Linked DNA regions of Homo sapiens. The protein of the gene in region 2 purifies or fractionates together with the protein of the main gene of each other region. This does not show direct contact. Each region holds a gene or a part of one and is shown on either strand. Other genes may lie near its edges.

Region 1 (3,654 bases), on a different chromosome or scaffold from region 2:
ATGGCTTCTCTGCTTATTTCCACACCTCCCTTTAATTGTTCTTTGGGACCAGTGGCCGTGATAGACACATTTGTGTTAGTAGCCCAAAGAAGTGGGTTCTTGTCTGTCCATTTTCTTCTTGGTGTTTGCTAGCACATCCTCCATAACCACGGGTGATCTGCAAGTGATCAAGTTCACTCTCTACAGGAAACTGTTTCTGGCAGTTTCTGATTTAACGGTCTGCTATTCTTTGCAGCGCCTCACTGTTTTAGAATCCCATGACATGCTTCGTAAATTCATCATATTTTTAAGAGACCAAGATCGATGCCGTGATGTATGTGAAAGTTTAGAAGGATGCCATACGCTTTGTCTAATGGGTAAGTATCCGTGGCTGGAACTTGATTGTGTCCTGGCCATCAGGGAAAGCCCGAGTGTTTTGCCTGTCACTATTCTAGAGATTTGGTTGTTTTCTGTAACAATTGGAAGTGCTTACAATAAAAAACACGTATTTAGATAGACAGTTAAAATAGACATGTAAATAAAAATCACATGGAAAATATTCCAGCCTGGCAAACTAGTTAAGTGACTGTTAATGAACATTAGATGTCAGCCTTTAGCTTCCTGGCAGTCAAGGAGAAAGTGAAAATGTGGTGAATTGCCTGGATAATTCCCATCTCAAGAGAGAAGGGAGGGAGTAGTTAGGTGGGGCTTATATCAGAGCAGCGCCTGCTTTACCTATTTTACAGTGTTTTCATTGTAGATGGAAGAAAGGGTTTATGAATAGAAGCATTTGAGGCAGAGGCACAGAATTCTCCTTGCCTAAATTTATTTTAGATAGGAAAAGTTTTTTTTGTTTTTTTTTTTTTGAAGACAGGGTCTCACTTTGTCACCCAGGCTGGACTGCAGTGGCACAGTCATGGCTCACTGCATCCTCTACCTCCTGGGCTTAGGTGATCCTCCCACCTCAGCCTCCTGAGTAGCTGGGACTACAAGCGCACACTACCACGGCCGACTAATTTTTGTATTTTTAGTGGAGACGGGGTTTTTCACCATGTTGCCCAGTCTAGTCTCCTTGGGCTCGAACAATCCACACGCCTCAGCCTGCGAGATTACAGACTTGAGATAAAAACTTCCCTGGGGCCAAATTTCATGAGGAGTTTCTGGTGCGAATGTTCACACGAGTGACGTTGACTAACTGGTGAACGTTGAATAACAGCGACTTCCCACGACACTCAGATACTCTTCAAAGACCATTTCTTATGTTAACCCTTGATTTTTAAGCATTAATATAATATTAAAATGTAACACTAACTAAATATCACCTACCTCTGTGTGCCTAACATTTTACCTGCCACTTCATCCTCATATGGAGAGTAGGGATCATCATTCCAATCTTACAAATGAAGAAACAAGTTTGAGACATGGGTTGACGGCCACGGCTCACCTTGTCTGTGGCATAGCCAGGATTTGAAGTCAGCTTGGCCCGTTTCTTACCTTTGCACCACACAGCAGCCTCCGGCATTGACAGGTGCCCCTTATGTGGAAATTTCTTGCTGCACATGGGATGTGGCCGCCTGAGCCACAGGCAGGGAGCAGGGCCGGGAGGCACCAAAATGTTTGTCTGGGCCCATCACACTCAGCCTTCTCTCTCTGTAGGCAACCTCCTACACTTGGGCTCCCTCAGCCCCAGAGTGTTAGAGGAGGAGACAGATGGGTTCGTGAGTTTGCTCACCCAGACGCTGTGCTACTGTCGGAAGTATGTGTCTCAGAAGAAGTCCAACCTGACCCACTGGCATCCTGTCCTTGGCTGGTTCTCCCAATCTGTGGATTATGGGTGAGTCCCAGATGCAAATCACTGTCTTTCCTGCCTCTCTCCCACCATCTTCTTCTTCCTTCTTTCTTTCTTCCAGCTTGTGGTGTTTTGTTTCTTATTATAAAAATAATATGTATTCATTATATATTAATAAATTGTGAGTAAGAACAAAAGAGGATAAAAACCAGCCCATTATCCTGTAAACCAAAGATAACTTGAGTGAACATCCTGTCAGTTTTCCTATCTAGAAATACTGATCCTTTTTTACAAAATTGAAATCCTATTATTTTGTATTTTGTTCCTTCCATTCAGCTATGGACCTTATCAATGTTTTTTCTTCTTCACTGTCACTTTTTGACTAGACTGCCATATTTTGGAGATGCTAAAACAAGACAAATGATTCAAAGGGAATAGAAATCACCCAAAATCCTTTTCAAGAGGTGGAATATAAATTTTTAAAAGTGTAATTATGAACTTAAAAACATGAGAAACACTAGACTAGAAGAAGGGAGATCAAGTAAGGTGCAGCTTCATGAATTTGAAATATCTACCTGAGCTGAGATAAAGTGGTTTCTGGAGAGGAACCAGCTCTGCTGCCCCAGCTGTTTTCTTGTTCACATATCTGCTCGAGGCATGGGGTCCCTGGCAGTTACCCTTGCAGCAGAAAACTAAAGGCCTGGGGAGGAAATCCCCAAATTTTTCTTTTGTTGTACCTGAGTGACATCCCTGGGTCCTATCTAGTTAAAAAGACTCATTGCTAGGGAACAGCCTGCCCCAGCGTGACACCTCAGCCTGAGGAGGATGGGGCGGAGGTGCTGAGAGTCAGGAGGCTGTGGGAGGTAAGTGAAGGAGAGCAGCACCTCCGCAGACAGCCTGCTCTCCGCTCCACTTCCTCTTCTTGGAGGGACTTGGACGACTTGCTTTGCCTTGCTTTCCTCATCTGAAACCTGGGGATAATTTTCACCCTCCCTTTGATAGGGCTTTCTAGAAAGATTGAATGAGATAATGCATGTGAAGCACCTACCAGCAGGCAGGCCTGGCCGTACTCAGGGGTGGCGGCTATTAACAATATGATGATCAATGTGGGAACCACTAGGAGTCTCACCTCACCTTCTTGAGCAGGAAGGTGACAGCAGATTCCAGGAAGTTGAGGGATGCTGAGTGCAGTGTGGAGTCAGGCAAGGAACCCCTGGAATGCAAGGAAACACTGAGGAGGCTGCTGAGTCATCTAGATTTGGCCCCCCACCACCTGCAAGCCAGCTATGAGGAGGGAGGCAGTGCAGTGGGTACAAGATTGTTTTTGTCACCTGGGTGGTAGCAAGTGTCTTCGAGAAGAGTGTGACTCATGGAGCTTGGGGACCTGGGGAAAGCAGACAAGATGAAGAGTCAATGCCCTTGACGTACCAGCCCCTCAGCAATGATTTGTTAGTTCCACTTTTTATTTTTGTAATCTTCTTTGCCATGTTGAGTGCCAGGTCCTAGCTACAGCTCCGAGTGGAAGGCCATTAGGAACTGTGTGGGCTGGCCCTGGCCCTGCATCAGATGGAACTGACAGACCAGGTCTCCTCTGCTCTCTCCTAGCCTTAACGAGTCAATGCACTTGATCACCAAACAGCTGCAGTTCTTGTGGGGGGTGCCTCTGATCCGGATCTTCTTCTGTGACATCCTGAGCAAGAAGCTACTGGAGAGCCAGGAGCCAGCCCACGCACAGCCAGCATCCCCTCAGAATGTGCTCCCAGTGAAGAGTGAGTGACGGGAGCAGGCCCAACCCTGTAGCTCCACTTGGCTGAAGTACAGCTCCTGTTTCTTCCTATATGGATGTTCCGCTGTGTTTGTGGGATGCTCTAACTTTGTTTTTGTTG
Region 2 (3,428 bases):
CAATTATGGCCAAAGCACGGACATCAATGCCTTTGTGGGTAAGCCAGGGCTTGAAACAGTGGTGGACATTAGTTCACAGAGGGGCTTACCTGATGCTATGGTGGTTCCTGACTTTAGGCTGTGGATTGGAGGCTACTTTTCTCTGTGAACCTCAGACATTGTTAGCAAAATTGTGCGTATGTAGATGTGCATTTTTAGGGGGAGAGGGTCTTTAGCTTTCATTAGTTCAGTAATTCTTAACTGGGGGAGATTTTGCTCCCAGGGGCCATTTAGCAATGTCTAGAGACATTTGGAGTAGAACATGTAATTGGGAAGGGAGAGTGGGTAGAGAGCCTCTTACAAAAAGTCAGAATTAAAACACATTTTTCCTCCTATTGACAGGGGCGGTGTCACTGTCCTGTTCTGATTCTGGCCTTTGGGCAGTAGAAGGTGGCAATAAACTTGTTTGCTCAGGGCTTCTGCAGGCATCCAAAAGCAATCTTATATCTGGCTCAGTAATGTACATCGAGGAGAAAACAAAGACCAAGTACACAGGTAAGCTTGAATTTCTTATTGTTCCTGATATCCCCTGCAGAAAATGATTGCTCAGGGAGAAACACTTCTCTTCTGTCATCTCTTACTCAGTTCTAAAATGATGAAACTTGAAATTGTATATATTGTACCATATAGAAATATTCCCCAATGGGCCAGGCACGGTGGCTCATGCCTGTAATCCCTGTACTTTGGGAGGCCAAGGAGGGTGGATCACCTGAGGTCAGGAGATCAAGACTAGCCTGGCCAACATAGTTAAACCCTGTCTCTACTAAAAATACAAAAAATTAGCCGGGCGTGGTGGCAGGTGCCTGTAATCCCAGCTACTCGGGAGGCTGAGGCAGGAGAATCACATGAACCCAGGGGGCAGAGGTTGCAGTGAGCCAAGATCACACCACTGCACTCTAGCCTGGGTGACGGAGTGAGACTCCATCTAAAAAAAAAAAAAAAAAAAAAAAATTCCCCAGTGTAGTTAAGTGCTGTGGCATCACTCCTTGGATTTGAAAAATAATCTTTTTTTTTTTTGAGATGGAGTCTCGCTCTTTTGCCCAGGCCGGACTGTAGTGGCCTATCTCGGCTCACTGCAAGCTCCGCCTCCCGGGTTCACGCCATTCTCCTGCCTCAGCGTCCCGAGTAGCTGGGACTATAGGCGCCTGCCTCAGCGTCCCGAGTAGCTGGGACTATAGGCGCCTGCCACCGCGCTCGGCTAATTTTTTGTATTTTTAGTAGAGACGGGGTTTCACCATGTTAGCCAGGATGGTCTCGATCTCCTGACCTCGTGATCCACCCACCTCGGCCTCCCAAAGTGCTGAGATTACAGGTGTGAGCCACCATGCCCGGCCGAAAGATAATCTTACCTTCAAAAGTAAAAATTCTGTATTTTGTACTTACTGACATTCTGAATAAGAAATTGGCCTCAATGTAATAAAAATGCAAGGGACAACTATCTTAAGGGATATAACTTCTTCAATTCTTTAGAATTATAGAGAAATTATGAAGAAGGTATACAATTATTTTTAGAAGGTATGTTAGAAACACTAAACAAATATATGCCTCCTTATTTCCTCTAGGAAATCCAACAAAGATGTATGAAGTGGTCTACCAAATTGGAACTGAGACTCGTTCAGACTTCTATGACATCGTCTTGGTGGCCACTCCGTTGAATCGAAAAATGTCGAATATTACTTTTCTCAACTTTGATCCTCCAATTGAGGAATTCCATCAATATTATCAACATATAGTGACAACTTTAGTTAAGGGGGAATTGAATACATCTATCTTTAGCTCTAGACCCATAGATAAATTTGGCCTTAATACAGTTTTAACCACTGATAATTCAGATTTGTTCATTAACAGTATTGGGATTGTGCCCTCTGTGAGAGAAAAGGAAGATCCTGAGCCATCAACAGATGGAACATATGTTTGGAAGATCTTTTCCCAAGAAACTCTTACTAAAGCACAAATTTTAAAGCTCTTTCTGTCCTATGATTATGCTGTGAAGAAGCCATGGCTTGCATATCCTCACTATAAGCCCCCGGAGAAATGCCCCTCTATCATTCTCCATGATCGACTTTATTACCTCAATGGCATAGAGTGTGCAGCAAGTGCCATGGAGATGAGTGCCATTGCAGCCCACAACGCTGCACTCCTTGCCTATCACCGCTGGAACGGGCACACAGACATGATTGATCAGGATGGCTTATATGAGAAACTTAAAACTGAACTATGAAGTGACACACTCCTTTTTCCCCTCCTAGTTCCAAATGACTATCAGTGGCAAAAAAGAACAAAATCTGAGCAGAGATGATTTTGAACCAGATATTTTGCCATTATCATTGTTTAATAAAAGTAATCCCTGCTGGTCATAGGAAAACACACGGTTCTAATTAAGTGTGAAGGTATAGCTATTGCACTTATGCCATCTCCAAAATTTCTTAAGTATTCTTTCACTATCCATTAGGAGTTTTTCTTAAACTTGTCTGATAATAAGAATCACCTGGAGTTAGGAGGTGGTGGTTGCAGTGAGCCAATCTCACCATTGCACTTCAGCCTGAGCAACACGAGCAAAACTCCGTCTCAAAAGTAAATAAAAATAATCACCTGGAGTTTGTTAAACCATATGGATTCTCAAGCTCCTCTCTTGAAGATTCTGATTCAGTAGGTCTGGGAGTGGCGCGCTGGATTTTGATCAAAATTGTAGAGCATTTTAAGGTGAGTACCTGAGGGAGAACTTAAAGACATCTTAGTTGGGGAGTAGTCCTTTTGAATTTTACAGCTAGATATAATCTTCAGTCAGATAAAATTTATGGGAGCTGGTGTCTTATGCCTGACTCTTAGTAATTTCATACCGGTTTGAAGTACGTGTGCCCATGCCTAAAGCCTTGACTTTCAGAATGTTGTCTTTTGATTCTTCTGTCTTGATTTGATTAGGGGTGAAATTTAGAAGTCTTAGTAATGTAACTTGAAGATGTTAAACAAAAATCTCAAGTAAAATGAAAAGCAAATATGGGCTACTGAATTAAGAAACTGGCATTCTAGTATTAAATCCTCACTTCAGGAGCTTTTAAAAATACTGAGACCCCCCCATAACCAGAGATTCAGATTCAAAGACTGAGGATAGGACCTTAGCATTGTAGCTATTTAAAGTTTCTAATGTGCACCCAGGGTTGGGAATCACCAATGTGGGTGTGAAAATGCCTACAAAGGGTTTTAGTGCCTTAGAAGTCCTAAGAAGCCCAATCTGTATCAAAGCAGATCCATTTTGCAAGGATCTTTCTTTTAGAACTTTCTCAGTTCTCTTAGTAAGAACTTTAGAAGTAATCTTGATAATAAGCACAGACAGCCTAACAGCAGAGGCAACTTAAATAACTCCTGAGCAGTTGGCACTAGAACAGAAT
Region 3 (3,654 bases), on a different chromosome or scaffold from region 2:
AAACCTTTTAGTGCTCTCTAGTCGCATTTCCAGCTCTCCCTCCTTCATATTTTTTGCTCATACTAGCCATGCTGAACCACTAGTACTTCCCTAAACACACCACATTGTTTTGCAGCTCTATGCCTTGGCCCCTACTCTCCCCTCTGAAATGCATTTCCCCTTCTAGATGAGACCACGGAACCTCACTTCCACTGTGAAGCCTGCTTCCACCCCACAGCCTCACCAGCTTCCACCCCACAGCCTAGCACTCCTGTGTGCCTGTTCTAGTCCTTTTACTTATGCTAACTGGTGCACATCTTGCTGTCTGTTCTAATAATCTGGTCTCCTTTCTGTCTTCTGCACAGTGAACTCTGAAGTACAAATCTAGGCTTTTCCCTCTCTGTTCCCAGACTCTAAAGGAAAGTACCTGGAGCACAGCAGCTGTTCAGTAAAGAATTGCTTGCCGGGCGCGGTGGCTCACGCCTGTAATCCCAGCACTTTGGGAGGCTGAGGTGGGTGGATCCTGAGGTCAGGAGATCGAGACCATCCTGGCTAACACGATGAAATCCCGTCTCTACTAAAAATACAAAAAATTAGCCGGGCATGGTGGCGGGCACCTGTAGTCCCAACTACTTGGGAGGCTGAGGCAGGAGAATGGCGTGAACCCGGGAGGCGGAGCTTGCAGTGAGCCGAGATTGCGCCACTGCACTCCAGCCTGGGCGACAGAGTGAGACTCCGTCTCAAAAAAAAAAAAAAAAGAATTGCTGAACTGGTTTGCCACTGGGCAGCTGGTGTCCCAGAGGACTCCATGGGGCATTCACATACATGCTCCAATGCAGGTTCCTGGCTGCCTGGCCCCTACTCTTCTTATCTCTGCCAATCCCTCAGGCTTTGGTCACTTTCTTTGTAGCTCTCACTTATTGAATGGCTAGCATGTGGCAGGCACTACGTATCATATTGCCTCATTGATTCTCATAACAACTCTATGGGTTGAATATGATTATTACTCCATTTAACAACTGAGGAAACTAAGGCCCAAAAACATCAAGTAATTTGCCCAGGGTCTTCAGCTAGAAAGTGACAAAGCCAAGTTGCCTGGATCTACCATTTCTGTTCTTTATTAAAATGGGAAGGTCACCAGAAGAGTAGAGTTTACACACACACATACACACACACACATGCACACGCATGCACACACGCGCACACACACTCACTCACCCTTTTAAGGACTCCCCTGCCTGGATAGTTTGCTGGACCTGGAAACACTGGATTCCATGTGTCTCCTACTACTTTTATCAGGGAGTCCCTCAAGCCAACATATGAGCCAACCCCGGAACAGACACACACCGGGCAGTGCTACCTGGCAGGGCCTGCTTCTGCCCCCACCCTGACACTTGGCTCTGTGATGATGGAGCCTGAGAGGCAGTCCTGATCCCACTGCCAGGGTCACCAGCCACAGATCCACTTCCATCATGTTCCTACCCTGACCTCCGTCCACACACCCTCCCTAACTAGTCCAGAAACCTTCTTCAGGAACTCTCTCAGGCACATGAGAACCTCCAGGAGGGCTCAGTCAGGACCTGAGCCAGCTGGACCAGGCCTCTTTCTGACACTGACACGGAGGAACAGGTGGTGGGTAAGCCGGGTGTCCTCCCCTAAGTTACGCTCAAGAGGAAGGGCTGTAACCTCACATGGCCTCTCAGCCTGGAATGTAGGTATGGTCATGTTCCTCCCATTTATATTTTTAGCGTGTACCTCCTTTGGGAGTAATGAGAGCCACACATTTGCTATTGGCTGTGTAAAGTCCCATTTCCTCTTTGCAAATGTCAAGTGTTATCTTAAGTTAGAGTTCATCCTGTCCTTGCCTTTTGCAATTACATAGTCTTTGTTGACTGAGAGCAATCCACAGTGACAGCCTAAATTATAATTCACATTGTACCTAATATAAATCAATCAGCATTCCAGCACACCTCTCGACAATTCAATTAAGTCAGAATTCATTGTGTGTTCGGCACTGTGACACTCATTAGTCACCAAGAACACAGCACAGGAGGGATCACACAGAAATCATCACTGTTTTTCTAATTTGCATCCTATCTTACTGGACCTAAGTCCTATTTACATAGGTTATCTCATTTAATTCATTCAACCAACATCTGAGATGAGTATTAAAAAAAAAGCTAAATACTTGTCAAAACGTTACAACAGATATGTCTATATATATGGGAGAACCAATCAAGAAGCAGATTTCAGGAGGACCTTTGGGGAAGGATTTTATACAGGACATGAGAAAGCAACATTAGAGGCTGGGCGCGGTGGCTCACACCTATAACCCCAGCACTTTGGGAGGCCGAGGCAGTTGGATTATGAGGTCAGGAGTTTGAGACCAGCCTGGCCAACATGGTGAAACCCCATCTCTATTAGAAAATACAAAAATTAGCCAGGGTGGTGGCAGGTGCCTATAATCCCAGCTACTCGGGAGGCTGAGGAAGGATAATTGCTTGAACCCGGGAGGTGGACATTGCAGTGAGCTGAGATCACACCGCTGTACTCCAGCCTGGGTGACAGAGCAAGACTTCGTCTCAGGGGGGCGGTGGGGTGGGGGAAGAAAGTGACATTAGGTTGTTTTGCAATATACAAGATTGGCTGTCTTCCCTTGATTCATTTATTCACTTCAATAATATTTATTGAAAACTTAGTATATACCAGGCACTGTTAAAAGGATTTGAAATATATCAGTGAACAGAACAGATGAAGGTCCCTCCCCTCATGCAATTTACATTCTAATGGGGGAGACAAAAAGCCATAGGCATAATGAATAAGTAAATTATATAATTTGTTAGAGGATAATCACTGCTAGTTTAAAAAAAAAAACCTAGAGTAGTGCAAGGGAGAAATGGTGGCAATTTTAAATAGGGTGGTCATGGAAATCCTTGTTAAGCAGATAACATTTGAGCAAAAACCTGAGAGAGATGACAGGTGAGGTCTGTGAATATCTGGGAAAAGCATATCAGACAGAGGAAAGAGCCAGTGCAAAGGCCCTGAGGTGGGGCCAGTGTGTTTGATGCACAGAAAGGAGGACAGTGGACCTGGAATGGAGAGAGGAAGGGGAGGGAATAGCAGGAGAGAAAGTTGGAGAGGTGACGAGGTAGCAAGATCATGTAGGGCCATAGCATATATTGTCTAGATACAGCCAAAAGGATTTTCTAAAGGGTTGGATATAGTATGTGAGAGAAAGAGAAGATCAAGGAAGACTCTAAGGCTTTTGGCCTGAGCAACTGGACAGGTGGTGCTGCTGTCAACTGAGACAAAGAAAGCTGCAGGTAGAGCTGCTTTCGGGGGACTAGGAAGTTCAGTGTTTGATGTTAGGTTTGCATCATCTGTGGACATTTGAATGGAGATGCTGCATAGGCAACTGGATATTTAAGTCTGAAATTCAGGAATGAGATCTGGGCCTGAGACATAAATTTGGGAGTTGGTTGTATGCAGATGATATTTAAAGCCATTGGATAGGATGAGCTCACCAAGTGAGTGAGTGTGGATGGAAGAGGGAATGGTTCAAGAGCGGAGCCCTGGGATACTTTAGTGGTGAGGAGTTGGAGAGGAAAGGAGGAAGCAGCAAAGGAGCTTGAAAAGGAACAATCATGAGATTGGGCAAGGAGTGTATGGCATCCT

The links.
Region 1: the proteins of PCYOX1 (region 2) and UBE3B purify together in Homo sapiens (co-immunoprecipitation; one large-scale study listed by IntAct). This does not show direct contact.
Region 3: the proteins of PCYOX1 (region 2) and POPDC2 purify together in Homo sapiens (co-immunoprecipitation; one large-scale study listed by IntAct). This does not show direct contact.

What each region holds. Positions count from the first base shown.
Region 1 is NC_000012.12:109,497,998-109,501,651, forward strand, and holds part of UBE3B (ubiquitin-protein ligase E3B), read left to right. Parts: intron 1-235; coding exon 236-356; intron 357-1,635; coding exon 1,636-1,813; intron 1,814-3,373; coding exon 3,374-3,537; intron 3,538-3,654. UniProt on the Homo sapiens protein: E3 ubiquitin-protein ligase which accepts ubiquitin from an E2 ubiquitin-conjugating enzyme in the form of a thioester and then directly transfers the ubiquitin to targeted substrates.
Region 2 is NC_000002.12:70,275,133-70,278,560, forward strand, and holds part of PCYOX1 (prenylcysteine oxidase 1 precursor), read left to right. Parts: coding exon 1-38; intron 39-381; coding exon 382-534; intron 535-1,601; coding exon 1,602-2,260; 3' UTR 2,261-3,428. UniProt on the Homo sapiens protein: Prenylcysteine oxidase that cleaves the thioether bond of prenyl-L-cysteines, such as farnesylcysteine and geranylgeranylcysteine. Only active against free prenylcysteines and not prenylcysteine residues within prenylated proteins or peptides.
Region 3 is NC_000003.12:119,650,563-119,654,216, reverse strand, and holds part of POPDC2 (popeye domain-containing protein 2), read left to right. Parts: intron 1-3,654. UniProt on the Homo sapiens protein: Important for the maintenance of cardiac function.